Linked DNA regions of Homo sapiens. The protein of the gene in region 1 interacts with the protein of each later gene in a pairwise test. Each region holds a gene or a part of one and is shown on either strand. Other genes may lie near its edges. The genes, in order: TRAF3IP1, C20orf96, TRIM3, AKAP6, TRIM9, MYO5A and FAM135A.

Region 1 (3,500 bases):
ACTCAACTAGTATTTCAGATGATAATTCAGCTAGTCTGCGGTGTGAGAATATTCAGCCCAACCCCACAGAGAAGCAGAAAGGTAAGAATGGTCCAGTTTCGCCCTTTCCTGGCGAGAGCAGAGTGAGCCCTCCAGAACCTTCTTCTCAAAGGGCCGCAGCCCAGAGCCCGAGGTTTTCCTCTTGGGTCTGAACGTGGCAAGTGATTCACAGTGATTCACTTCTGCCTTTTTGCATAAACTAGAATCGAACATGGTGGTTTCTTGATAGCATGGGACCCACTCGTGTGCTCCCCCGTGCTCTGTAAGTGAGAGGAGGTGGCATGTTTCATCACTTGGGGGGTGTCATGAGTGGTCCCTGAAAAGTTTCGGGGTCACTACTTGGAGAGCCCCACCAGTCAAGAGGTGTACCCCCCAGACTTCATGGTCACAGTGCTGTGGCCACCATGATTTTTCTGTCTGTCATTTTCTTTGAGTGTTGAATTATACCTCAGTGGGATTTTACTTTCACCATAAATTTTCTCAGCCTTTAAAAAAACTTTGGTAAAATAGCCATTCAATGTTTGTGTTTTGAGGCCTTGGAGCTCCTAACAGGCCTGCAAGGGTACCAGTGCCCAGGTAACCAAGGCTTGTGCAGGTGGCAGCGGCAGGGTGGGGTGTGGCCAGGGGAGGGCTGATGTTTGTTGATTTGTTCAAACAGAAAATTATCTGTTGAAGGCCTACTGCATGTCAGCCCTGAGGCTGGGAGCGCATGAGCCAGTGAAGTCAGGCTGGCCTCCTGCCTTCCTGGTGCAGATGAGGCTCGAAGATCAACCGAAATCGTTTGATGGGGTGGCAGTCTGGGACGGGAGGGGCCTTGGTTGGTGAGGGTGGCCCAGAAAGCCTGCAGGGCAGAAGGGGCTGTATAAACCAAGATCCCGGCTGGGATGCGACTGCAGCAGGGCTGGCTCAGCCCAGAGGAAGGGCCAGAGCCAGGTCCCTGTGCCAGCTTATGGAGTTTAGCCTTTATTGGAAGAGCAGCGGGAGGCTAATTATATCTTTAGGAGGAGCAGTATAATGATATTTAGATTTTAAAGAGTGGCCATGTTAATTAGGGAGGGTTAAAGATTGTGCAGAGAAGAGAGAGAGGCCTGGACTGTGGAGGCGCCCTGGGAGGGGAGAAGTGGTAGGATTCCAGGGCTGCTGGCACGTGCTGGGGGAGCTGGCCTGGAGCGTAGAGGGAAGGCCCAGGCTAGAGAGGAGCTGTGAGAGTTGCTGGCGCTGGGTGATGGCAGGAGCCTGGGTGGGGACTGGGTCACCTAGGACGAGATTGTGAGTGCAGGAGCTGGCAGAGCACTGGCGCTGTGGAAGCACAGGCGTCGGGGAGGATGGTGTGGGCCATGTGGCAGGTGCCTTGGGTTCTGGGTAACGGGGACTGGAAGTATCCATTGAAAGGTAGAGAGTTCACTGTGCTGACTTTCCTTCTGGGTATCGGCCTTGTGGTTGAATAACTGCACCTCTCAGGCACCTTTTTGAGTGCTGTGTTAATCCAGGGTCTGTTCCTAACACCCTGGTGTTTTGAAGAAAGAGCCGGGGATTTGAAACTGTGTCTGCTGCCTGCCCCCAGGTCGCACGAGGACTCTCAGTGCTGGTTTCTGCTAAGCACACGCTCCAGGCCGCACAGCCATGAGGAAAAGATCTTCTGCCACCTGCTCTTGGTCCCCAGCAGTCCCATCCCAGGGTTGAGCTGAGTCCTCTGCCCCCATTGGCCCAAAGTGCTGGGGTCTCTGAAACTGCCCTTGTAGTGGCACTATCTGGAACCACATTCTCCAGCCCCCTGCTAACCACTGTGCCCTCCAGTCCCCTAGGCCCTGGTGGGTGCCAGGCTACCCCCTGTGCTGTGGCACTTTGTGGGGTGTGACCTCTGGAGGTTCTCAGGCCCATACTAATAGAGTCCTCTAGAGCCTCCCGGTTCCCCTTGATCCACAAGCTTGGCCCCCTCTCTCCCTGCCAGAGCCACCCTCTTAAGGCAGCATTTATGAGCTCGTGGCTGTTATGCTCACAGAAAGTCCTCCTGTGAATAAACGAGCTAGAGGTGTCTGTAGAGTGCTCCTCACTCTGCTCGGTGTGGACCCTCACAATAACCCAGGCTGATTTCTCGAGGCTGCATGAACTGTTCCTGTCTGAGGCGGGGCCGTGTTAAACGAGGCGCTGCATCAGGCCCTGCTGCCTCCTCTCTGCCGTATAGTGTGCTGGGCTGTCATGTGAATCCATGCGCTTTCTGCTCTTCTGCAAATGCGTTCGTGCATCTTAAGAGTGTGAAACAGAGATTTCCCACCTGTGGTTTTGAATCACCCCACCCCTGTGGTGCCACTGCTCATTTACTTTGACCGTTTAGGTCACATTTGTCCTCAAGACAACACTTGAAGAAAAAGGATCCTGGGTGAAGGTGCAGAGGTGGGCCTCTGTTGAGCTGGAAGATTTTCTTCTGCTTTCAGGAGCTGATGGAAAAATGCTTACCAATCATGTCTATAAGATGGGCTGTTGTTGACTGTCTCCCAGTCTTTGGAACGGCCCGGGATTTGGTTGGCCGGGTTCAGACTGTTGCATCGTTCCCTCACATTTGGATGCACTTTTTCTGTGGCTCTGGCTTTGTCGATTCTTGTCTCATGAACTTGTTAACTTCCTCTCCGATGTGCTTTCTCCACATCCCTGTGTCCTGTTTCTATTTAGTACCATTTTATGATGCACAGTTTGTTTGCTCTTTGTTTTTCTATCTTTGAAAATAAAACAAAATGGCAATAGGGACATTAGAAAAGCGGCTATGAGGAAATGATCTTTTTTTCTTAGCAGACATCCAAAATTATGTACAGTGTGTTTTTTCTCCAATTCTGTTCTCATCATTTAATGTATTGAGGTTGACTACACGAAAGCTAATTTTCTGATGTGCTTTTTCTTTAGGTGACTCCACCAGTGATGCAGGTGAGGAATGGCCTTAGATACCTGTGTGTCATATCAATTGTATGCATGTGTGTGAATGTGAATGTGGACTCTCAGATTCATGCTTTATAAAGTGCATTAGTGAAAGTAACTTATTTTATGGAAAAAGATCATAACTACCCTAATGTATTTATTTATTTATTTATTTTTTGAGATGGAGTTTCACTCTTGTTGCCCAGGCTGGAGTGCAATGGCATGATCTCGGTTCACCGCAACCTCTGCCTCCCGGGTTCAAGCAATTCTCCTGCCTCAGCCTCCTGAGTAGCTGGGATTACAGGCATGCACCACCACGCCCGGCTAATTTTGTATTTTTAGTAGAGACGGGGTTTCTCCATGTTGGTCAAGCTGGTCTCGAACTCCTGACCTCAGGTGATCCACCTGCCTCGGCCTCCCAAAGTTCTGGGATTACAGGTGTGAGTTACTGCGCCTGGCCAACTACCCTAATTTAATTTGAAATTTAATTTATATGTTTTAAGTTTGAAAACAATACATTTCAGGATTTTTTTCCAGAATATAAAGTATAT
Region 2 (3,500 bases), on another chromosome or scaffold:
AGCTGGCGCATAAGAGTGGAGATCTGGACAGACTTGATGGAATACTCATGGTCCATGTAAGTGCTCAGGAAGTTCACTTCCTCCTGGGTCTTCTCAATCTTGGCATTCAGCTGCTCTGCCTGCTGCTCAAGATCTGGGGAGGGGTTAGGGAGGTCAGCAGGGACAGGAGGCAAGACCTTCCCTCAAGCACCTGGGCCCCAGGAGGCCCAGGAGGCAAGGTCTCCTTGGCCAGTAACTGGGGTCTGGGCTGAGGTGAGCTCACACAGGGCTGGGAGGTGGTTAAAAGTTAAGGCTCTAGACGGTTTTCCACCCCTGCAGGAGAAGAGGCAATGCTGGGTAGGAAAAAGGAAGGGAATTGGTGCATGATCCCTAGACTAGTCCCCACTCTGCCACTGACTTGCCGGGTGGCTCTCGCCAAGACTGTCCCTCTCCAGACTTCAGTCTCCTCAGAGACACACTCAAGGAAGTGAGACCAGGCAGATGGGGTGACAGTGGCTCCCAAGACACAACCCATGGCAGGATTAAGACAAAGTCTATCCTGTCTTCCTCCAGAGAGACCCCCAATGTCTGGGGTTGACTGATCCACCACCCCTCTGCTCAGCAGGTGTGTAGTCTGCTCAGGGAAAAGGAACCACAGGCCAGGCAGGATGGAAGCCAGGAGACCCAGGTTCTAGCCCAGCCACTGACTCCCAGAAGGACCTTGGCAGGAAACAGAGCCAGGCTAGGATTGGATTCTGGCTCCTAGCTATATAACCTTCCACAAGCTACTGCACCTCTCTTAGCCTCGGTTTCCTCATCTGTAAAATGGGAGGACAGCTTCCCTGCCTCCAAGTAGTTGCAATGACTGAGTGTGTGCCTGTAACAATGCAGACATTGGTAGAGACCCAGATACGGGGCCTGGAAAGAGCTAAGTGTTGGGTAACTATGCTATTCGCTCTGTATCTTAGCATTCCCATCTGCCAAGAAGAGAGCCAATGGGGCTGAGGGTTTCTGAATGGCAAGTACAAGGTGAATGCTCTGCTGCTGACCTCCCCAAGGTGCCAGGGGGGAGGGTCAAGGAATTTGCCAGGGATTCTTACAGCTCATCTTGCATTTCTTCTTTTCTTCCCACTCCTGAAGCTCAGATTTCAATTGCTGCAGCCTCTTCTTGTTTGAGTACTCCAAGATGTCGATGATGGTCTGCGGGAGGGGTGGAGTCAACTCACCCACAGGCTCTGCTGGCTCTCAGAGGCGGCCACCCAGCACTTCCTCAGAGGAGTCCCCAGTCCCAACCTCACTCCCAGAAACCTGACCAGAGGCTAATCGGGACAGTAACAGTGTCCACCCATAGGGTTGTTGTAAGGACTATATAAAGACATACAGATCGCTTGCTATTACACGTAGAGGTGTTTGCAAATGCTGTTGGTGGTAGCAGCGACCTCTGTCGCACCGGTACAGTATGTGCCCGGTGAACCCCCTCTGGGACGGGTGCTATGGTGCCGCATTTCACAGAGCTCGGGGAGGCAAAGTTAACTAAAAGTCTCCCGGCCAGTGAGTGCTGGCGCGCTGGGATGAAACCCATCTCGGTCCTCTTGCAAAGCCCAGGTGAGGGGAGTGAAGGGTGAAGAAATGCGTCTTCCAGGTGGAGGAAGCACCACGTGCAGTGGGCGGGGAAAGGCAGGAGAGGGCGCGCGAGTGCGCGGAGGGAGGGCGGGACGGAGGGAGGGAGGGCGGGACGGAGGGAGGGAGGGAGGGACGGAGGGCGGGACGGCGGGAGGGCGGGACGGAGGGACGGAGGGAGGGCGGGACGGAGGGCGGGAGGGCGGGACGGAGGGAGGGAGGGAGGGAGGGACGGAGGGCGGGACGGAGGGACGGAGGGAGGGAGGGAGGGACGGAGGTTGGGACGGAGGGACGGAGGGCGGGCGGATGCCGCGGGTCTCACCGCCAGGGTGTCCTGCTGCTGCAGCAGGGCCCGCACGTGCAGGGTCGTGCTGTTCTCCATCTCCTGGATGGTCTCGATCAGCTCCCGGTTGAGCTTGCTGAGGAAGTTCTCACGGCTTCGGAGCTCTCGCAGAGCGGCCCTCCCGCTCCTGAGCGAGGTCTGCGGGCGGAGGGAAGAGCAGAGAGGCGGCGCTGCGCCCTGCCCGGCCTGAGCCCCCGAAAGCCCGTGGACCCGCCGCCCCGGCCCCGCCAGACGCCCGCCCCCGTGCGGCCTCCTGCTGGTAAACGCGGCCCAAGCTGGGCGGTTCCCCATTGTCTGCGCCGCCCGGGAGCTCCGGGACTCTCATCCGTTCGGAAACGCACGTGTACCCATCATCTCACATCCCTGAGGTGCGGGTGCATCTACAGTTGGTGGCGTGTCACCAACTAATCAACAAATATATTATTAGTGGGTAAATAAAGATGTGCCTTCATATCAATGGCTTCTCAGAATCAATGAAATATAGAAATAATAGTAAGGGCCGGGCGGGGTGGCTCACGTCTATAATCCCAGCACTTTGGGAGGCCAAGGTGGGCCGATCACGAGGTCAAGAGTTCGAGACCAGCCTGACCAACATGGTGAAACCCCGTCTCCACTAAAAATACAAAAATTAGCCGAGCGTGGTGGCGCGTGCCTGTAATGCCAGCTACTGGGGAGGCTGAGGCAGGAGAATCGCTTGAACCTGGGAGGCGGAGGTTGCAGTGAGCGAGATGGCGCCACTGCTCTCCAGCCTGGGCGACAGAGGAAGATTCCTGTCCCAATAATAATAATAATAATAAACGCCCCAGGTAGGTTAAGAAGGTGGCAGAGCGACCGCCATGTCTGGAGGAGAAGCAGGGGAGGCAAAATGGATGATAAACGTCAGCATTTCCGGGCAGGCCGCGGAGTCAATGAGTACTCTCATTTCACACAACAGCCCCCAGTGGAACAAGGAGGGTCTGAGGGTTAAGTGACTCGCCTAAGGTTACACCCAGCAGGTGCATAAAACCTACAGTAACAACAACAACAACAATTGTACTTCCCTAAGGTTACACCCAGCAGGTGCATAAAACCTACAGTAACAATAACAACAACAATTGTACTCCCCTAAGGTTACACCCAGCAGGTGCATAAAACCTACAGTAACAATAACAACAACAATTGTACTCCCCTAAGGTTACACCCAGCAGGTGCATAAAACCTACAGTAACAATAACAACAACAATTGCTGAGGGCCCTCTACATGCCAGGCCAGGTGCTGTGCCTTGCTCTGCAGGTGGCACATGGTATCTGTTCACCCTCCAACAGCTTTATGTTTACTAACTCTATTTTGCTGATAAATGGAGGCTCAGAGAGTTTAATGACTTGCCCAGTGTCACACAGTCAAGAAGTGGCAGGGCTGGAACTGGAAAGCCAGACTTCTGAATCCCAATGTCTGTCTTTCCGTTATGCTAAAACAAGAACTGAGTAGCCTTAAAACTGCAAGGCATGGCTGAACCACGTAGTGACTAAGACTTGGATGTTGAACCTAGACACACCTTGGTTCAAATCCCAGCTCAGC
Region 3 (3,500 bases), on another chromosome or scaffold:
CTCTCCTTCTCTCCTGACTCCTCCATTCATAAACATGCTCAAAACTCCCATGCCAAACAGGTAAAAACTCTTTCTAGCACCATCCAACCCCTCAACCAGCTCCTCATTGGAACTTTCAAGCTCCCCTTCACTCAACTTCCAGCAGTCAAGCTTTCCTTCTCCTGCCACTCCCTCCCTGTTTTCCCTACAGACAAAGTACCCTCACATTTGCCAAATTCAGTGGACATTTTCCTGTCCTTACCTTACCCAACTCGTCAGCTGCTTTTAACGCTGATGACTACTCATTCCCTCCTGGAAATGTACCACTCAGTTTTCTGCCCTAACACAGCTGCTCTTCCTGCCTCTCGGCCTGGTCTTCTTTGTTGTCCTCATTCAGTTTTTGCTAAGTGCTCTGTCCCTCTCTCTTATCACTGTCTATGCTTTCTTGTCTGATCTCATCCTCTCCCAGTGCTACCGAAGCCATCTAAATGTTGATGGCATGCCCATCTCTTGTCTCTAACCTTCATTCTCCTGTCTACTGGTGACCTCAACCTGGGTGTTTATTGTTACAGTAAATTCAACCAGGACAAGGCTGAACTTTCCTATAGCTACTCCTCTTTCTATGTTTCTCATCTTAGTGAATGTCACCACTATCCACTCAGTTATCAAAGCTAGGAATTTGGAAGTCAGCGAAGACTCATCATCTCTCTTGCTCCCCATATCTAATCAGACAACACCTCCCACCTTCCCTCCTTCTTAAACACTTCTCAAATTTATTTCCACCTCATAGTCTACATTACTATTGCCTAAATCCAGGTCTTCTTCACTTCCTACCTAGATGATTGTAAGAGTATGCTGGCTAAGCACATACTTTGCATTTGAAGACAGGCTTCAGCACCTACTGCTGTTGTTACCTTGGGCCACTTGCCCTTTCTCCTGCTAACAGAAACGTAATCAGAAAGCATGGCACCTGGCACATATGCACTTAATAAATGGTAACTAGCTGGTGATGCCACTGCCCTCGCCCCCCAACCCCATCTGCTGTCTCATTCCCTTTAAATTCACTCCCCACACAGAGGGGGTGAAGAGGAGCTTGGTAAAATATAAACCTGGCTATACCACTCTCTTGCAGCTTCCTATTGCTGGCAGGATAACTTCTAAGCTCCTTGACTTCTGTCACCATTCCTTGCCTTGGACTTTGTCTCTAGCCAGCCACATCAAACTGCTTACAGTTGCTTATTCATACTATGCTGCTTCTTGCTGCCTTCTGTATCTGGACTACCCTTCCCCCTCTGCCTGCACCATTCTTTGGTCAGGCTAACAATTATTTATCCTTGAAGATTTAGTTTGCATCAACTCTCTGAAGACTTTCCTGGACACCCTCTCCACCTGCTTGAGCCAGATGCATTTCCTTATCACTTTCTATCATTCCTTATATTAATAATAAGTAATACAAGTAGCCTACCATATATAGTGCTATTATGAGTCAGGCATTTTACATTTAATCCTCTTCAAATATAAGTAAGTACTTTACATGTAATCCTCTAACACTCTGTGAAGTCTGTACTTCTCCATCTTACAAAGGAAGAGTCCTTGGCTTGTCAAAGTTATGTAACTTGTCAGGGGTCATACAGTATAACAGGTGACCAACGGGGTGTTGGGCCTGGGCAGCCTAGCTCCAGGACCCATTCCCTTAATCATCATGCTATTTACTTCTGTACTATTCCTGTGACTTTTTTCTCTGTAGATGGGAAGTATTTTAAGGGTAGGCACTGTGCTTTATCTTTTTGTCCCCAGGGCTTGGCATAAATTTGGCAAGAGTAGACAGTAGTGTTAATGAGTTAAAGAAGTTGGGCAGGGGGTGCCTAGTTGCACATTCCTATGAGAAGCATTTGTAAACACCTGTGAAAGGTGAGCCTGTGTGCACACTGTGAGGAATGTGGATAGTCTGCTCTTCTGAGAGGGGTCGGGGTGTGTTCCTACTCAGTTGTAAGGGGCAAGGCCATTATACCTGCTGGCAGATGAGATGTGTCAAGCAGAGAGGTTTTAAAATGAAGTGTAATGGCACACCTGTGAGGGAAGGGGTTGGCACCCATGGGAAGTATAAGGAAGGGTGCACTTATGCCACCCCACCCACTCTGTTCTTTGACTCTCCTTCCTGGACAGATGTCTCCAAAACTATATCCCTGCCCAGAGCCTGACGCTATCCTGTCCAGTATGCCGGCAGACGTCCATCCTCCCAGAGCAGGGCGTCTCGGCACTGCAGAACAACTTCTTCATCAGCAGCCTCATGGAGGCAATGCAGCAGGCACCTGATGGGGCCCACGACCCGGAGGACCCCCACCCCCTCAGTGTAGTGGCTGGCCGCCCTCTCTCCTGCCCCAACCATGAAGGCAAGGTGGGCCCAAGCGAGGCCCAGTGAGGCCGGGACTTGGGGTGGGAGGAGGAGGAGAGGCATTGGGGGGTGCCGAGTGGCTGGGTGACAGGGTACTGCTCTGGATTAGTGGTCCAGGTAGGGGGTGCACTTAGAAGGTGAGGGGCAGGGAGGGCAGGTGGGGAGGGGACAAAGAAGTGTGATGTCTAGCCATTACCCGACTGGAGTCCTTGTACCGCAGACGATGGAGTTTTACTGTGAGGCCTGTGAGACGGCCATGTGTGGTGAGTGCCGCGCCGGGGAGCATCGTGAGCATGGCACAGTGCTGCTGAGGGATGTGGTGGAGCAGCACAAGGCGGCCCTGCAGCGCCAGCTCGAGGCTGTGCGTGGCCGGTAGGCACTGGGCAGGGTCCTGGGCTGGTGGGGCCACAGGGATGGTGTCTTAGCTCGGGCGGGGAGGGGAATAAAGGGTCTGGGAAGGGCAGAGATGGAAGTCTCAGGGAGGTCTCAGGAAGGAGATCTCCATGAGGGCAGCAGTAGGTTCCCCAGGGAGAAGGGAAAGTTCGGCAAAGCCACCCTCAGCAACTCTGGAATGAGATATTCCCCCTCCAGATTGCCACAGCTGTCCGCAGCAATTGCCTTAGTCGGGGGCATCAGCCAGCAGCTGCAGGAGCGCAAGGCAGAGGCCCTGGCCCAGATCAGTGCAGCGTTCGAGGACCTGGAGCAAGCACTGCAGCAGCGCAAGCAGGCTCTGGTCAGCGACCTGGAGACCATTTGTGGGGCCAAACAGAAGGTGTGTCTTGTGTTCACCCTTTCCTACCATCGTCCATTGTGATGGTGTTATTGCCTCCATTGTTCCTCTGTCTTCCACACCAGCTCCCCATTCCCCAGCCTAGATATTCTGCCTCCTGACATGCCCTCGGTAGGTGCTGTGGGCATCTGTGTCCTCTGTCCACAGGCACCCTCTTGTATTTTATGCCACAGTGCTACAACTTCAGTAATCACAGAGACTCCCCCTGTGCCAGTCTGCTCACCCACTCCTCCCCTACCCCTCATCAGGTGTTGCAAAGCCAGCTGGACACACTGCGCCAGGGTCAGGAACACATCGGCAGTAGCTGCAGCTTTGCAGAGCAGGCACTGCGCCTGG
Region 4 (3,500 bases), on another chromosome or scaffold:
CTCTATCACACGTACCCCACCCCTCCTCATTCTAATTGGAAAATCAGATTTCATATGTAGAATGAAATGTCATTTGCAACACTAAGGTTGATTTCACTGTAAGGATGAGCATGAATCTTGATCAGATGTGAATATTTACTTTGTACCCAGAGATTTAAGTAATGAAGAGTTGATGCTTAGACTTTTGCCACTGCCCTTGCTTGATATAACTTTCTAGCAGGATCTCTGTATGGAAAATGTTACATCAATAATTGTGGGCATGATGGAGTTGCACTCAAAGCAGGTCTTACCTGAGTCAGTAATGATTCAGCTTTGTTATAAACCTGTCTTATCAGCTATATTTGTGGTGCTTTGTTAACTTTAAGATGTTTGTATTCCCTGCTGTTGCACCAGGTTCTGTTCTCAACCTGGTGTTGAGAACAGAAGCAGAAACTTCTCTCACAGTCTGGAAAGTGTAATCTGAATCTATCTCTTAGGTTAAGAAGATAGAGGATTTATTTTGCTGAATGTATCAGTGGCTGAAACCAAACTCTGTCTATCTCTGACAAAGTACAAGAATGACAGTCTTGTGTAATAACCTGGAAGCCTTGTGTTTGAGGAGAGCTGATATAGTCATTTCTGTATCATCTTGCTCATCCCCAGCTATCCACGCCCAGCGTCATTATTGGGCTCTAAGGGCTGTTCTTTGTTTGAGTGTGGGGCTAATGCACACACTGACAGCATGTTGATATTGATTCCTGTATGGTGAATACTTAGAAATATTATTCCACAGGGCTCATTAGCCTTTTCTAGGTTCCAGGAAGAAGTTAACCTTTGTCCTAACCTGCTCCAAAGAGGCCCAAGCTTGTGTCTGCATGAGGTACAGGAATGAGAGGCTGATCAGAAAGCATCAAAGCTGCTAGGTACAATGACTACAGGAGTTAGGTTCCAATTAGGAAATAAAATAGCCAGTGGAATTTAGGGAAGTTGGTGGTCTTGCTACATGTCTCTGATTTTCTTCTATTTATAATCCTAGAACCCATGAATGGCAGTTTGTTTTGATCGCATGGATTCAATTCAATTCAATAAATATTTATTGAATATCTCCTATATGCCAGGCATTGTCAGGGAATCTATAGCAATGAGCAAGACAGATGCAAATCTCTTCCCCAGCTACATTCTAGAGGGGAAGGGAAAAATGGGTAAATTGGTAAAATAATTTATTTCCTCTAATACTGCAATACTATTTCTATTTACTTTTTATTCCATGTGTTATTAGAGAAGCCCATTATCTGTGCACATTTGTATAGGTACATATAGCTATATGGTTTATATGTGGAGGTAAACTTACTGCATTAAATAATAACTTTTTTTTTTCTTGCATGGGTTTGGATTAGAATCTTTCTGGATGTGGACAAGACCAATATGGCAATTAGTATTTTTTTGGTATAAACTATTTTGAGAAATAAAATTATAATCAGTCAAATAGTGCATGTCTATCTCAGTTGACAAACTTGACATATGGAAATATGAAATGTGTGTGGCAGATCAGTTAAGGAGAGATATTTTTGTTTTTATAAAAGATATTCATCACCTTTAAAAATTGTCCAGAGAGCCCTCTAAATTGAGCATTCCAGCCAGCCTGCTGATGGAGGTATGTATCATACAAGGTACCAACTACACACTTAGTTGTACAAGGACAGGTATACCAGTTACCTTCAGTCTCATCTAATCGCCCTAGTGTGCCTTACAGTATTGCTTTAAATGGGAAGCATTTCTCGAAACAATCATATTGACTGAACTCTGTAGATGGGCCCTGAGTGTGGTTTTTCAGAGGAATAGCAATCCATATAGGACTTTGGCCATGGCAACAGAGTTTTAGGTACAGTAGCCCCTTCCGCGCCCTTATTTGTGATTTAGCCTTTTGTGGTTATGGTTATCCGTGGTCTGAAAACATTCAATGGAAGATTGCAGAAATAAACAATAAGTTTTAAATTATGCGCTGTTCTGCATAGTGCAGTGAAATCTCTCACCATTACTGTTCTGTCCTGCCTGGGATGTGTATCATTCCTTTGTCCAGCATATCCATGCTGTATATGCTACCAGCTTGTTAAGTCACTTAATAGCCGTCTTGGTTTTCAGATCAACTATCTCGCTATCATAATGCCCATGTTCAAATAACCTTTATTTTACTTAATAATGACTCCAAAGCTCAAGATTAGTGATGCTGGCATATTGTTACAATTGTTCTGTTTTATTATTAGTTATTGTTAATCTCTTATTGTGTCTAATCTATAAATTAAACTTTATCACAGGTATATATGTATAGGAAAAAACATAGTATATGTAGGGTTTGGTGCTATCCATGGTTTCAGGCATCCACTGGGGGTCTTGGAACATATTCCCTGATAATGAGGGGGACTATTGCAGTTTGAATTAATAAGGCATACAGTTTCTTCTCCACGAGCACATACCGGTCAGTAATTGAATTCCTGAGTTGGCTTTAAGATTTGGTGAAGATAAAGGACAGACTTTGTTTTCCTCATAAGCCACCAGCCATATTTTTCTCTGTTCTTCAGCCATGGGGCATGCTCCAAACTCTTCCAGCCATCTTGCAGTGGTGTGCTTTGAGTCACAAGGGTAAGTAGGGAGAGAATGTGGAACCTTTATTTTATTTTCAGATTTTTTTTTGGAGACAGGGTTTTACTCTGTTGTTCAGGCTAGATTGCAGTAGTGCAATCATTACTCCCTGCAGCCTTGAAATTCTAGGCTCAAACGATCCTCCCACTTCAGCCTCCCAAGTGGTTAGGACTGCAGGTGCACATCACCCCACCTGGCTAGTAGAGCCTTTAGAATGGGGTCTCAAACTGGCTAATACATGAGCTAAACCTAGCCTGCAGCTTGTTTTGTATGGCTGCTGGGCAGGCTTTATGGGTGTGCAACCTGTGTAGTTGCATAGGGCCCTGCACTGAGAAGGGCCCACACTTAGTTTAATACTCTGCTGTAACCATCTTGGAATTCTTAATAATTTTTTAATAAGAGGCTCCACATTTTTATTTTACAGTGGACCTTATGTAGCCAGTCCCATATGGCCCTTTTGGTGCCCCCACTGATACTGCCTGAGCCCTGTAGATGTTTGAGTTTCAGACTCCCCACTTCCTCCTACTCTGGAACAATTCAAATAGAAATTGTAGTGCTTAGAAAAACTAAGGGACCATTGTCAAAACAACCCAGAGCAAGGCCCTTGTAGATGGTAATTCAGTGGCATGCAAAGGAACTCAGTGGCATTTCTTTTATAGGCAATGGGGGATATATTACATTATACTTGAAGATATTTGGTAGGTGAGGTTTATTTGTCACCACCATTGCTTTCAGGGGAGAAATCAAATCTTCTTTGCAAAGCAAGCTAATTAACCATCCTGTTGGTTCAATGTTTATATTAATTCTCTTGCCCTTTGTTTACTACTTGATTACTTTTATCACCTGCTTTGTTTAACTCTCATTTAAATTACACAACATAT
Region 5 (3,500 bases), on another chromosome or scaffold:
CATTTTGAAAGAGCAGAGGGGCAGTTTTTTACCCAACAAACTAAATAATATAAAAAGGGCTTTGTTTTTTCATGGATCAGGCCTCTGGTATCTATATTCAACTGGTGCTTTTTAAGCGTATACAAGTAATTTTTATCAACCTGGTTGTTGTTTCATAGCGTTGATGTGTAGTATCTCTTTATAGGATGCAATTTTGAGACACAATCTGCACCTTACTCTCAATTAGGCAAGTATACCTATTGTAATTATCTTTTACTTACGTGATTGGTGTGCTCAATTTCCTTCACAAAATAAATGGCGGCAACTTGTCTTATGTCAATAAAATTGTCTAATTGTCATTCTAACCCTATTATAGCAGTTTCTCAAACTCTTAAAAAATGGAAAAGATGCCTGTAGTGTTTAATGTTATGCCTCAAACCTTACTTTTCCCCCAGTTTTCTTTTACATCAGTGCAAAGCACTCTTTATGAGCACTAAATGTGGGTAAAGGTACAAGTCAGAGAGCACCTGTTTAGTATATGTGGCATTTTAAATTGAGTCCTTTTGGGGTACTAGTCTATCAAGAGAGACACATTTTCTTATCCATGTCAATTTTGCTTCCTATCTCTCTCCCCCATGCCTTTCACTTGGAATGACAACAGTTGACATTAAAAAGCTGTTGGCAGGTATGGAATAACCTTATTCTGTTACCAAATAGCAAAGACCAAAGTGCATGTGAGGTGTCTCACAGGTTTAATAAATCAGCAATTACATCTCTCGAGTGTGATATTTATAGGTGGCATTTAGAACTTGGGGCGTAACAATGCGTACAAAGACATCATTCTATCTGCACCTAATGTCCGAAATTCCTACTGCTCCAGCAAAATTTCTGACGTGTTAGTTTCAGGAGTAGCACGCAAACTGTGTTTTTTAAGTTATGCAGACAGCAACCTGTCCTACATGCAAGTCACAATCACTCATGAAAATTAGTTTATGTTGCTTATAGCTTCGCAGCTTGTGAGCTTTCACTAGAGCCGAGGAAGACTTCAAAGCGACTAGATGTTAGCACTTCTGCCGAAGGGATATTTCCTGATTTCACTCCATGTGTTTTATCCCTCCTCCATCTAGGACTCTAGCTCCTAGCCTCCCCGCCTCAGGGGTTACACAGGCATCTTAGCGCATCCCCTCTCCCTTTATGTCTCTGGTGCACTGTTCTGCCAGTCACCAGGTGAAGGGACTTGCACCTTCCAAAATCGATGCCACTTCACTCCCGGATCACCTGGTTGGGAGTGCAGTCTGAGCCAGGTAACCCCTGCTGAATCGGTCGTGTGTCCTCCGTCTGCTTCTGGTGCAGAGAGTACCAACTCCCAGGACGTGCCCCTGTCTGCCCTGGCCCTGGACGCCTCCTTCCTGCATGGCAGCATGAAAACGCTACACAACGCTCCTCACCCGCCCAGGAGTATGTTATGGTGCTGAGCTTGTTGGGTCTGTCTTAATAACCTGATTCCCTTCTGTTGTTCCCAGTGGCCTGGTTTGCTTTCGACCCTGGCTCGGCGCACTCGGACATCATCCTCTCCAATGACAACCTGACAGTGACCTGTAGTAGCTATGATGACCGGGTGGTGCTAGGGAAGACTGGCTTCTCCAAGGGCATCCACTACTGGGAGCTCACGGTAGATCGCTATGACAACCACCCTGATCCTGCCTTTGGTGTGGCTCGCATGGACGTGATGAAGGATGTGATGTTAGGAAAAGACGACAAAGCTTGGGCAATGTATGTGGACAATAACCGGAGCTGGTTCATGCACAACAACTCGCACACCAACAGGTACCCTGCAGCCCCCAAACCAAGCCTTCTTCACGTTGGCTTCTGATCAGGAGTGAGAGCCCCAGTTCAAAAACCTATTACATAGACCACATTCAGGAAATCAAACAGGTGGTCTACATTAAGTAGCACAGGCAATCTATGAGCCTCAGCTGAGTCCATGCTGGTGGTTTACTTTCTATATAATGATAGAGACTTGAGTACTTTCCTACTCCCTTCATTGCTGTATTTCACCCATGGCTGGAAACTAAGAATCCCAATGGATATCCATTATAAGAAAACAATCCAGGATGCTGAAACACCCAGACCTACAACTTAACAGAAAAGCACTTTTGGGCAAGTTACTTCGTTTTTTGAACCTCAGTTTCCAAATCCATCAAATTAGTACAATAAAATTTTTCCTTGTGGGAATCTTCTGAAGATTAAATGAAATATGTGAAAATGCCTTACATTGGAAGCACCTGAAAATAGTAGCCATTCTTCTTATTACGATTCATTAAACTAAAGCTTATGGATGCCAATTTGAATGGCTTTCTACTTATAGAGAACTCTCTTATTACTGTATTAATCCAGAGCAGCCAGTTTGCTAAGGAAAGGAAATACAGTAATCTCCTTGAGGTTTTCTTCTACCACCAAAATATAGATCATTATAATTGAACACATACTATAATGGATTTCCTTTCTCATTTGATTGTGTTCCTCAAATGTATTTTTCACAAATTTCCTAGGCAGAGAAATTTCTACTGTGGACCCTGGTCCACCTTATGCTCCAAGATTTCCCCAGGATACATTCTCATTAGTGTCTCTGAAAAAAAAAAAAAATACAGTAGTGTTCAACCAGATCAAAGGGAAAGCAAGTCAGACATTGGTAGGATAATTGGACCCCACTGTTTTATCTTTTTCTGTATGCTCATCACTGACCCTTCTCCAGCCTGTAGACTCCTAAAGCCTCCTTTTCCCTTGGATAGCTTCTATAGCATTCAAGTGTGTATTATTCGCTGTCACTTGAAGTGAACACACACACCATTTCACCATGAAAGCAAATCCTACTGGATGTAGATAAGTGGTTATCTTCAGTGATCGGCATTTTGTGGAACTCTCTGTCAATAGATTCTCAGTGCTATCACCCAAATGCCACACTTACTTTTTCCCTTTTAGCGTCTTTGTTTTGAAGTGCAGGAGTGAATAATGACATAACCATCACACTATGCAGAGAAACACATTCTTAATGCTGAACACATCTGCTTGCATGCAACCTGCATGTCACTTGTGCTTTCATTGTTAAACCTGTGAAGTAGCAAGAGGCAATTTGTAAACCTGTCTTTTAATGACTATGTACAGTCTGTATCCTGCATGCAAGAGGAAATGAATGACACAAATTCCTGTGCTCTGCTGAGATGAGGACGAAGTTCAATATTGCTAGATCTCAAAAAAATGGGAAAGACAAATCTGATCGTCCATTTTTAATGGCATTTTGTGAAACCATCAATTGAAGCATAAGACACAATTCTTTGTAAAATGGCATTTGTATGCAGGTTCTTTAAAATCACTACATCTCAGAGTATAATTATTTCACTGTACAGAGAAGAAGCCTCTTCTTCAGTGCTGTCATTTCACAGACAGCCTCCAAGTTCTTAATTCAAATGCAACAAGCCAAAAAACTGCTATCCTTCTGGAATGAGTTTTTCTGTTTAATG
Region 6 (3,500 bases), on another chromosome or scaffold:
ACATTGTGCACATGTACCCTAAAACTTAAAGTTTAAAAAAAAAAAAGAAAATTTTAATATTAATACTCTTGGACAATAAGAGGACCTTAAAATCCTTTAACTCTAAAAAAAAAAAGGGTGATCAAAAATCATGTCTTTCGATTTGTCCAAAAAAACTCTATTGTTTTTGTTTGTGGGGATATGTTCATTAGTTGTTTGATAGACTTCAAATATTTCAAAACTATGTAGAATATTAATAATGACTATTAAGGGCTGCTTTAGTATGTGTCAGACAGCACTTACTGTATATGGTGTTATTTATGATCATTAATTCTTACAGCATCTCTGTGAGGTAGGAATTATAGTCCAGTTTTACAGATGAGGAAGCCAAGGCTCACTGGGGCTCATTGATTTACCCAAGTTCTCTTGGCCACAAGGAGCAGAGCTGGGATCCTGGGTCTGGCACCGCTGAGGGCCCATGACCCTAGCCAACTGCCCTCCATGCCTCCCATCCCTTTGCCAGGAGGGCAGCAGAGAAGGTGCCCAGCGGCACTTCCTGAGCACTGACAGGCAGATGATGGGAAACACAGAGATGAGCAAGGCCTAGTCCCTGAGAAGATGGGGCCAACAGACCAGAATCCCTCAGAGGGGTCGTTGACTGCATCCTATCAGTCCCCACTTTCGGACCAGTCATTAAGTAGGTGGTAAGGAGGCAGATGCTTGGCTGTAGGGAGAATCCTCAGAGTAAGCACTTGCCTTTATCACGTAGCATCAGGCAAACAACGTGTTAAACTGCAAAGTGACTGGAAGAAGTGCCGCCCATTCAGTTCCATTTTAACAGATACCACCAAAGATTCCCTTCTAACCTCTGACTGAAAACCATGGTGTGGGTACTACGAAATAGAGTAAAGAGAACTTTTTGTATGTATTCACTAGTCTCTGTAGAAATCGGTCTATTTCAAGATTATATATGTCCTTTGGGTGTAGTTTTTAAGAATAGGACTATAAAGAACTGAAGTTAAGAGATAATTTAGATAATTTAGTGTTTGACAGTAAACCTGCTGTTTCAGAAGTGAAACACTCTATTTTTTTTTTTTTTTTTTTTTTTTAGTTAAGTTCCTCCAATTTGCTTCATTGACATTGCTATTGGGAAGACTTAAATGCTAGGTTGCCAAGTTAAGGTATTGTTCAAAAGCTAGTAAGAACTGGAGGGGGTTATGATGGAAGCAAACAAACACACATCAGCATTTGAGAATGTCAGTCCTGGCATTAGTGGGGAAGCTCCTTGGACAGAGCAGAAAAGAGCATGAAGATGCTGATCAAATTGGAGATAGTTAAACTGAAGAGACAGGTTACTTCATGTGTATCATTAACTTTGCCTTATGACTCTAGGGCTTTATGAAGCACAACACATCTCGCCAGAATGAACACTGCCTCACCAATTTTGACCTGGCTGAGTATCGGCAGGTGCTGAGTGACTTGGCCATTCAGATCTACCAGCAGCTCGTGCGGGTGTTAGAGAACATCCTTCAGCCAATGATTGGTAAGGCCAGGGCCCCACTGGGCATTGCAGCCTGCCTATCATTCATGCCCATCGATAAGTAGCCACCAGTGGCACATGTTTCAGGGCAGGTATTCATTTGGGGAGCATAAAGTAGTAAGATACAGGGCTAAAATTAGCCGAGGAATCCCAGAAACCCAGCCATAGTTAACTGGGATACATCGAAATCACTGTTTCCACAAGACTGAAACAGTAGTATATGGTTTCCTTCCCTAATGTTTACTGTTTAAATTCAGTTGAATGCATTGAATTTTAAAAAATTGTCTTAAGTTACCAAACATTGTTATCTTCCAGCAAATTATCAGCAGGCTCCCTTTTTTTTTTTTTTGAGACAGAGTCTCGCTCTGTCGCCCAGGCTGGAGTGCAGTGGCGCGATCTCAGCTCACTGCAAGCTCTGCCTCCCGGGTTCACGCCATTCTCCTGCCTCAGCCTCCCGTGTAGCTGGGACTACAGGTGCCTGCCACCACGCCCAGTTAATTTTTTGCATTTTTAGTAGAGACGGGGTTTCACCGTGTTAGCCAGGATGGTCTCAATCTCCTGACCTTGTGAGCCACTCACCTCGGCCTCCCAAAGTGCTGGGATTACAGGTGTGAGCCCCTGCACCCAGCCTATCAGCAGGCTCTTAAGGCTACTTCCAGCTACACTTTCTTTCCCCATGCATGCATTTTCCATGTTTCCACAACTTCTTCATTTCCCTTCTGTGGGCTCATAGTGTTCCCTTTGCTTTCATAGGCCACAGTTAACTAGCTATTTGAGACATCAAAAGCTGAAGAAGCCATGGGAGATGGCAATGTTTTCTTCAGATGTCCCTTAAAACGTCATTAAAGCACCCTAGGTTGGCAAAAATTTAGGAGGTAACACAGATACCAAGGTCAACTTCAGCCAGTTTTTCTATTGCTTTGCCTGTTTCTATTGGCTGAATAAGAAGTTCGCCTCAAAGAAGCCCCAATCTAAATCCTTACCCCCATCTCCCAGTCATTTAACAGCAACAACAAACATGCCGGTTCTAGGGAATCTGTGTTTAGCACAATTAAATAGCAAGATGAACCAGACGTGGCCTTTGCTCTCAAGGGGCTTGCTGTCAGGGAGTGGACATCTCAGAAACATTCTAAGGGAGGCATAAGCCAAATGCTAAGAGAGCACAACAGGGAAGCAGCCGGGCCACAGGTGAGAAGACGAATTCTGGGAGATGGAGGTCAGCCCAAGGGCCCACTGCTGTTGTGGGAAACCCAGAATAAGGAAGGGCCCAGCTCTCCAGACCCATACCACTCCCCTCTCCCACGTTTTCTCCAAGATGGTTGTCAGTGCCCTGCTTTTCTTACTGTTTTTGCCTCTGGGGCTCAGATAACATGGAGAATGCTTATCTTAACCCGAACTGCTACCTACCACTCTCAAAAGCCCACCCAAGACACACACACTTGTTCTATCACAAGGCTACTGCTTCTTAACGCTTCTTATTTTAGAAAAGACACCATTAAGTTTACTTAGATTCATAGTAAATTTTTGCAATTAAGAATTATTCCTTCAGTAAAGTTTAAAATCCGGAAGCCCTTTTGTAGTGAAGTTCCTTTTCCCTCTATTTTGGCACCCAGATCATTTTTTTCTTTTTTGAAATGGAGTCTCTCTCTGTCACCCAGCCTGGAGCCCAGATATGTGGTCTCAGCTCACTGCAGCCTTTGCCTCCCAAGTTCAAGTGATTGTCCTGCCTCAGCCTTCTGAGTAGCTGGGATTACAGGCACACGCTACCACGCCTGGCTAATTTTTGTATTTTCAATAGAGACGGGGTTTCCTTATGTTGGCCAGGCTGGTCTTGAACTCCTGGCCTCCAGTGATCCACCCACCTCGGCGGCCTCCCAAAGTGCTGGGATTACAGATGTGAGCCACCGTGCCCAGCTAATTTTCCTAAGTTGAATGTGCATGTGTTTGTGCACATGGATATGTGCACATGAAAGGTTCCCTT
Region 7 (3,500 bases), on another chromosome or scaffold:
GATTGCCATGATCATCAAACAACCCCATCTTTGGGAGTTAGAACAATTGAAATAAAGCCCAGTAATAAAGATCCTTTCAGTGGAGAGAATATAACTGTCAAACTAGGACCTTGGACAGAGCTTCGACAAGAGGAAATACTTGTGGATAATTTACTACCCAACTTTGAGTCCTTAGAATCTAATGGTAAATCTAAATCTATAGAAATAACATTTGAAAAGGAAGCTTTGCAAGAAGCAAAGTGTCTTTCTATTGGAGAATCATTAACTAAATTACGAAGTAATCTACCTGCCCCTTCTACAAAAGAATATCATGTTGTAGTAAGTGGAGATACAATTAAGTTACCAGATATTAGTGCCACATATGCCTCATCTAGATTTTCAGATTCAGGTGTTGAAAGTGAACCGAGTTCTTTTGCGACACATCCAAACACTGATTTAGTCTTTGAAACTGTGCAAGGGCAAGGTCCTTGCAATAGTGAAAGATTATTTCCTCAGCTTTTGATGAAACCTGATTATAATGTAAAATTTTCATTAGGAAATCATTGTACTGAGAGTACAAGTGCTATAAGTGAAATACAGTCATCTTTGACATCCATAAACTCTCTACCCTCCGATGATGAACTGTCACCTGATGAAAATTCTAAGAAATCTGTTGTACCTGAATGCCATCTAAATGATAGCAAAACTGTATTAAATCTAGGAACGACTGATTTGCCAAAATGTGATGATACTAAAAAGTCAAGTATCACTTTGCAACAGCAGAGTGTTGTATTTTCAGGGAACTTGGACAATGAAACTGTAGCAATACATTCCTTAAATTCAAGCATTAAAGACCCTTTACAATTTGTTTTTTCAGATGAAGAGACTTCCAGTGATGTGAAAAGTAGTTGCAGCTCCAAACCTAACTTGGATACTATGTGTAAAGGCTTCCAGAGTCCTGATAAATCTAATAACTCTACAGGGACAGCAATTACATTAAATTCAAAACTGATTTGTTTAGGCACTCCTTGTGTCATTTCAGGTTCCATTTCTAGTAATACAGATGTTAGTGAAGATAGAACTATGAAAAAAAATAGTGATGTATTAAATCTCACACAGATGTATTCAGAAATCCCTACAGTTGAAAGTGAAACTCATCTGGGTACAAGTGATCCTTTTTCAGCCAGTACTGATATAGTAAAGCAAGGGCTTGTGGAAAATTATTTTGGTTCTCAAAGCAGTACGGATATTTCTGACACATGTGCTGTTAGCTACAGCAATGCACTTAGCCCTCAGAAGGAAACTTCTGAAAAAGAAATTAGTAATCTTCAGCAGGAACAGGATAAAGAGGATGAGGAGGAAGAGCAGGATCAACAAATGGTTCAAAATGGGTACTATGAAGAAACAGATTATTCAGCTTTGGATGGAACAATAAATGCTCACTATACAAGCAGAGATGAACTAATGGAAGAAAGACTTACAAAATCTGAAAAAATAAACAGTGACTATCTGAGAGATGGTATAAACATGCCTACTGTCTGTACTTCTGGTTGTTTGTCCTTCCCGTCTGCACCACGAGAGTCTCCTTGTAATGTTAAATATTCTTCCAAAAGTAAATTTGATGCCATTACAAAGCAGCCAAGCAGTACTTCTTACAACTTCACTTCTTCGATTTCCTGGTATGAAAGTTCACCAAAACCTCAAATACAAGCGTAAGTAATGGAACGTAATAGTACCTGCTGCTAAATATATACATATATATATACACACACACACACATACACACACACACACACACACACACACACACACACACATATATATATAAAATCATAGATAGTGCTAAAGGATTGAGTGTCTATTTTGTTGTCTGGTTTCTGTAATACAAAAGTGCTTCTTTGATGACTATCCGAAATGGAGAAATGAACATAATATACCCTTGGCCAGACAGACCTATAGTTGCTGAATGATCGTGCTGTTCTGCTGTTCTATAGGATAGACATTCCTGATACAGATTTTCCAATGGTAGTTTTGTGTTAGAAGTATGGAATAACTGAGCTTAAAACCCTTTTTTCATCAGTCCCTCATTTCTCCTCCATTAACTTCCAGACAAAAGCCAAGTTTTATGAGTTTATCTAGGAAATAAGGATAATATTAGTTAAATGAGTAACAGGGTAGTGGAAACTTCTTGAACTTACCAGATGCTGATTGCCTTCAGCTAAGTCATTGGTTTCCAGAATTGAGATTTCATGTACCAGTAAAATATCCAGAAAAATCTGGCGATGATACAGGTTTACCAGCGTGCACTGGTTCTTAAAATATTCTATTGCCTCAGCCAGACTGAGTCATAATATTTGGGGTAAGAGGTCTTGGCATGTATATATATAGAGAGAGATTTTTAAAGTTCCCAGATTATTCTGATTTATACACAGAAATTAAGATACATAGTGTCTAAAGCTAGTGAAACCACTGAGGTAACAATAGCCAATTAAAAAATTGTGATATGCAGGGAAAATAAAGTTTATATCACCGTCTGGTTACTTCAGATTGTCTGAGTCATCAGAAAGCAATGATCTCTAATATAGACTTTATATATTTTTGGCCAGCTTATCCTACTCAGTTTAGTGTTCATCAGGTTCCTCTTCCAGCTTCACTTTATCAGTCCAAATGATGTATGTTAAATAGTTAATAATTTTTGATGTTTGCAATCCCCAAATTGGTTAGATTGTCCGTCATTGCAAACGAGTATATACCACTAATTGTATGCAGTCACATTCCCCTCTTCGTTCTGCTCCTTCTTATTGGTATTTTTAGAGAAAAATACAAATAACCTAATCTGCTAAATACTGTAACTCCATTCTCACTGTTACATTTTGTAAATCACTCCTTCCCTTCCATTTATGCAAGATTAAAAAGGAGCAAAGGGGATAAGATTTCATTACAGGATAAACATCAGATTATCACCTCTCCAGTCCCTCTCCCAGCTTTTCTGTGCATACAGTGTTAAATTTTGCAGAAAGTATAACTTCACTCAGAATGTTTTCTTAGAGTTGATTTCAAGTTTAAAAGAATATTTTCAAGTGATTTCAGGTTTAAAGTGTTCATTGTATTTGATAGAATATGTACTACAAATAATAAAGAAAATTACTCTCTGATTTCTAAATCACTTAGGTGATGCCACATATTTTCATGGTTTTAAAACCAAATATTGTTGGGTTTCCACTTCTACAATTCTCTAAATTCAGGAGGGTTCTAACAACTGAATATGATCCTTAGTAAAGAGTATCTTTTGTATTTTGCTTCAGCTTCCTTCAGGCAAAAGAAGAACTGAAGCTACTAAAACTTCCTGGGTTCATGTACAGTGAAGTTCCTCTGCTGGCATCCTCAGTACCTTATTTTAGTGTAGAAGAAGAGGATGGTTCTGAAGATGGAGTACATCTGATTGTCTGTGTGCACGGTTTAGATGGTATGTGACATCTATGGATGTAACCCAGAGCAACTCAATATATTTTTTTCCTAAT

What was found.
Region 2: the proteins of TRAF3IP1 (region 1) and C20orf96 interact in a two-hybrid assay, tested with the Homo sapiens proteins (one large-scale study listed by IntAct).
Region 3: the proteins of TRAF3IP1 (region 1) and TRIM3 interact in a two-hybrid assay, tested with the Homo sapiens proteins (one large-scale study listed by IntAct).
Region 4: the proteins of TRAF3IP1 (region 1) and AKAP6 interact in a two-hybrid assay, tested with the Homo sapiens proteins (one large-scale study listed by IntAct).
Region 5: the proteins of TRAF3IP1 (region 1) and TRIM9 interact in a two-hybrid assay, tested with the Homo sapiens proteins (one large-scale study listed by IntAct).
Region 6: the proteins of TRAF3IP1 (region 1) and MYO5A interact in a two-hybrid assay, tested with the Homo sapiens proteins (one large-scale study listed by IntAct).
Region 7: the proteins of TRAF3IP1 (region 1) and FAM135A interact in a two-hybrid assay, tested with the Homo sapiens proteins (one large-scale study listed by IntAct).

Annotation. Positions count from the first base shown.
Region 1 is NC_000002.12:238,344,518-238,348,017, forward strand, and holds part of TRAF3IP1 (TRAF3-interacting protein 1), read left to right. Parts: coding exon 1-81; intron 82-2,937; coding exon 2,938-2,958; intron 2,959-3,500.
Region 2 is NC_000020.11:277,251-280,750, forward strand, and holds part of C20orf96 (uncharacterized protein C20orf96), read right to left. Parts: intron 2,081-3,500; coding exon 1,922-2,080; intron 1,180-1,921; coding exon 1,080-1,179; intron 134-1,079; coding exon 1-133.
Region 3 is NC_000011.10:6,456,942-6,460,441, reverse strand, and holds part of TRIM3 (tripartite motif-containing protein 3), read left to right. Parts: intron 1-2,145; coding exon 2,146-2,377; intron 2,378-2,594; coding exon 2,595-2,746; intron 2,747-2,965; coding exon 2,966-3,146; intron 3,147-3,412; coding exon 3,413-3,500.
Region 4 is NC_000014.9:32,332,298-32,335,797, forward strand, and holds part of AKAP6 (A-kinase anchor protein 6), read left to right. Parts: intron 1-3,500. UniProt on the Homo sapiens protein: Binds to type II regulatory subunits of protein kinase A and anchors/targets them to the nuclear membrane or sarcoplasmic reticulum. May act as an adapter for assembling multiprotein complexes.
Region 5 is NC_000014.9:50,980,106-50,983,605, reverse strand, and holds part of TRIM9 (E3 ubiquitin-protein ligase TRIM9), read left to right. Parts: exon of another isoform or gene 1-184; coding exon 185-226; exon of another isoform or gene 227-324; intron 325-640; coding exon 641-664; intron 665-1,106; exon of another isoform or gene 1,107-1,283; intron 1,284-1,502; coding exon 1,503-1,806; intron 1,807-3,500. UniProt on the Homo sapiens protein: E3 ubiquitin-protein ligase which ubiquitinates itself in cooperation with an E2 enzyme UBE2D2/UBC4 and serves as a targeting signal for proteasomal degradation.
Region 6 is NC_000015.10:52,319,381-52,322,880, reverse strand, and holds part of MYO5A (unconventional myosin-Va), read left to right. Parts: intron 1-1,371; coding exon 1,372-1,522; intron 1,523-3,500. UniProt on the Homo sapiens protein: Processive actin-based motor that can move in large steps approximating the 36-nm pseudo-repeat of the actin filament. Can hydrolyze ATP in the presence of actin, which is essential for its function as a motor protein. Involved in melanosome transport.
Region 7 is NC_000006.12:70,525,008-70,528,507, forward strand, and holds part of FAM135A (protein FAM135A), read left to right. Parts: coding exon 1-1,691; intron 1,692-3,284; coding exon 3,285-3,445; intron 3,446-3,500.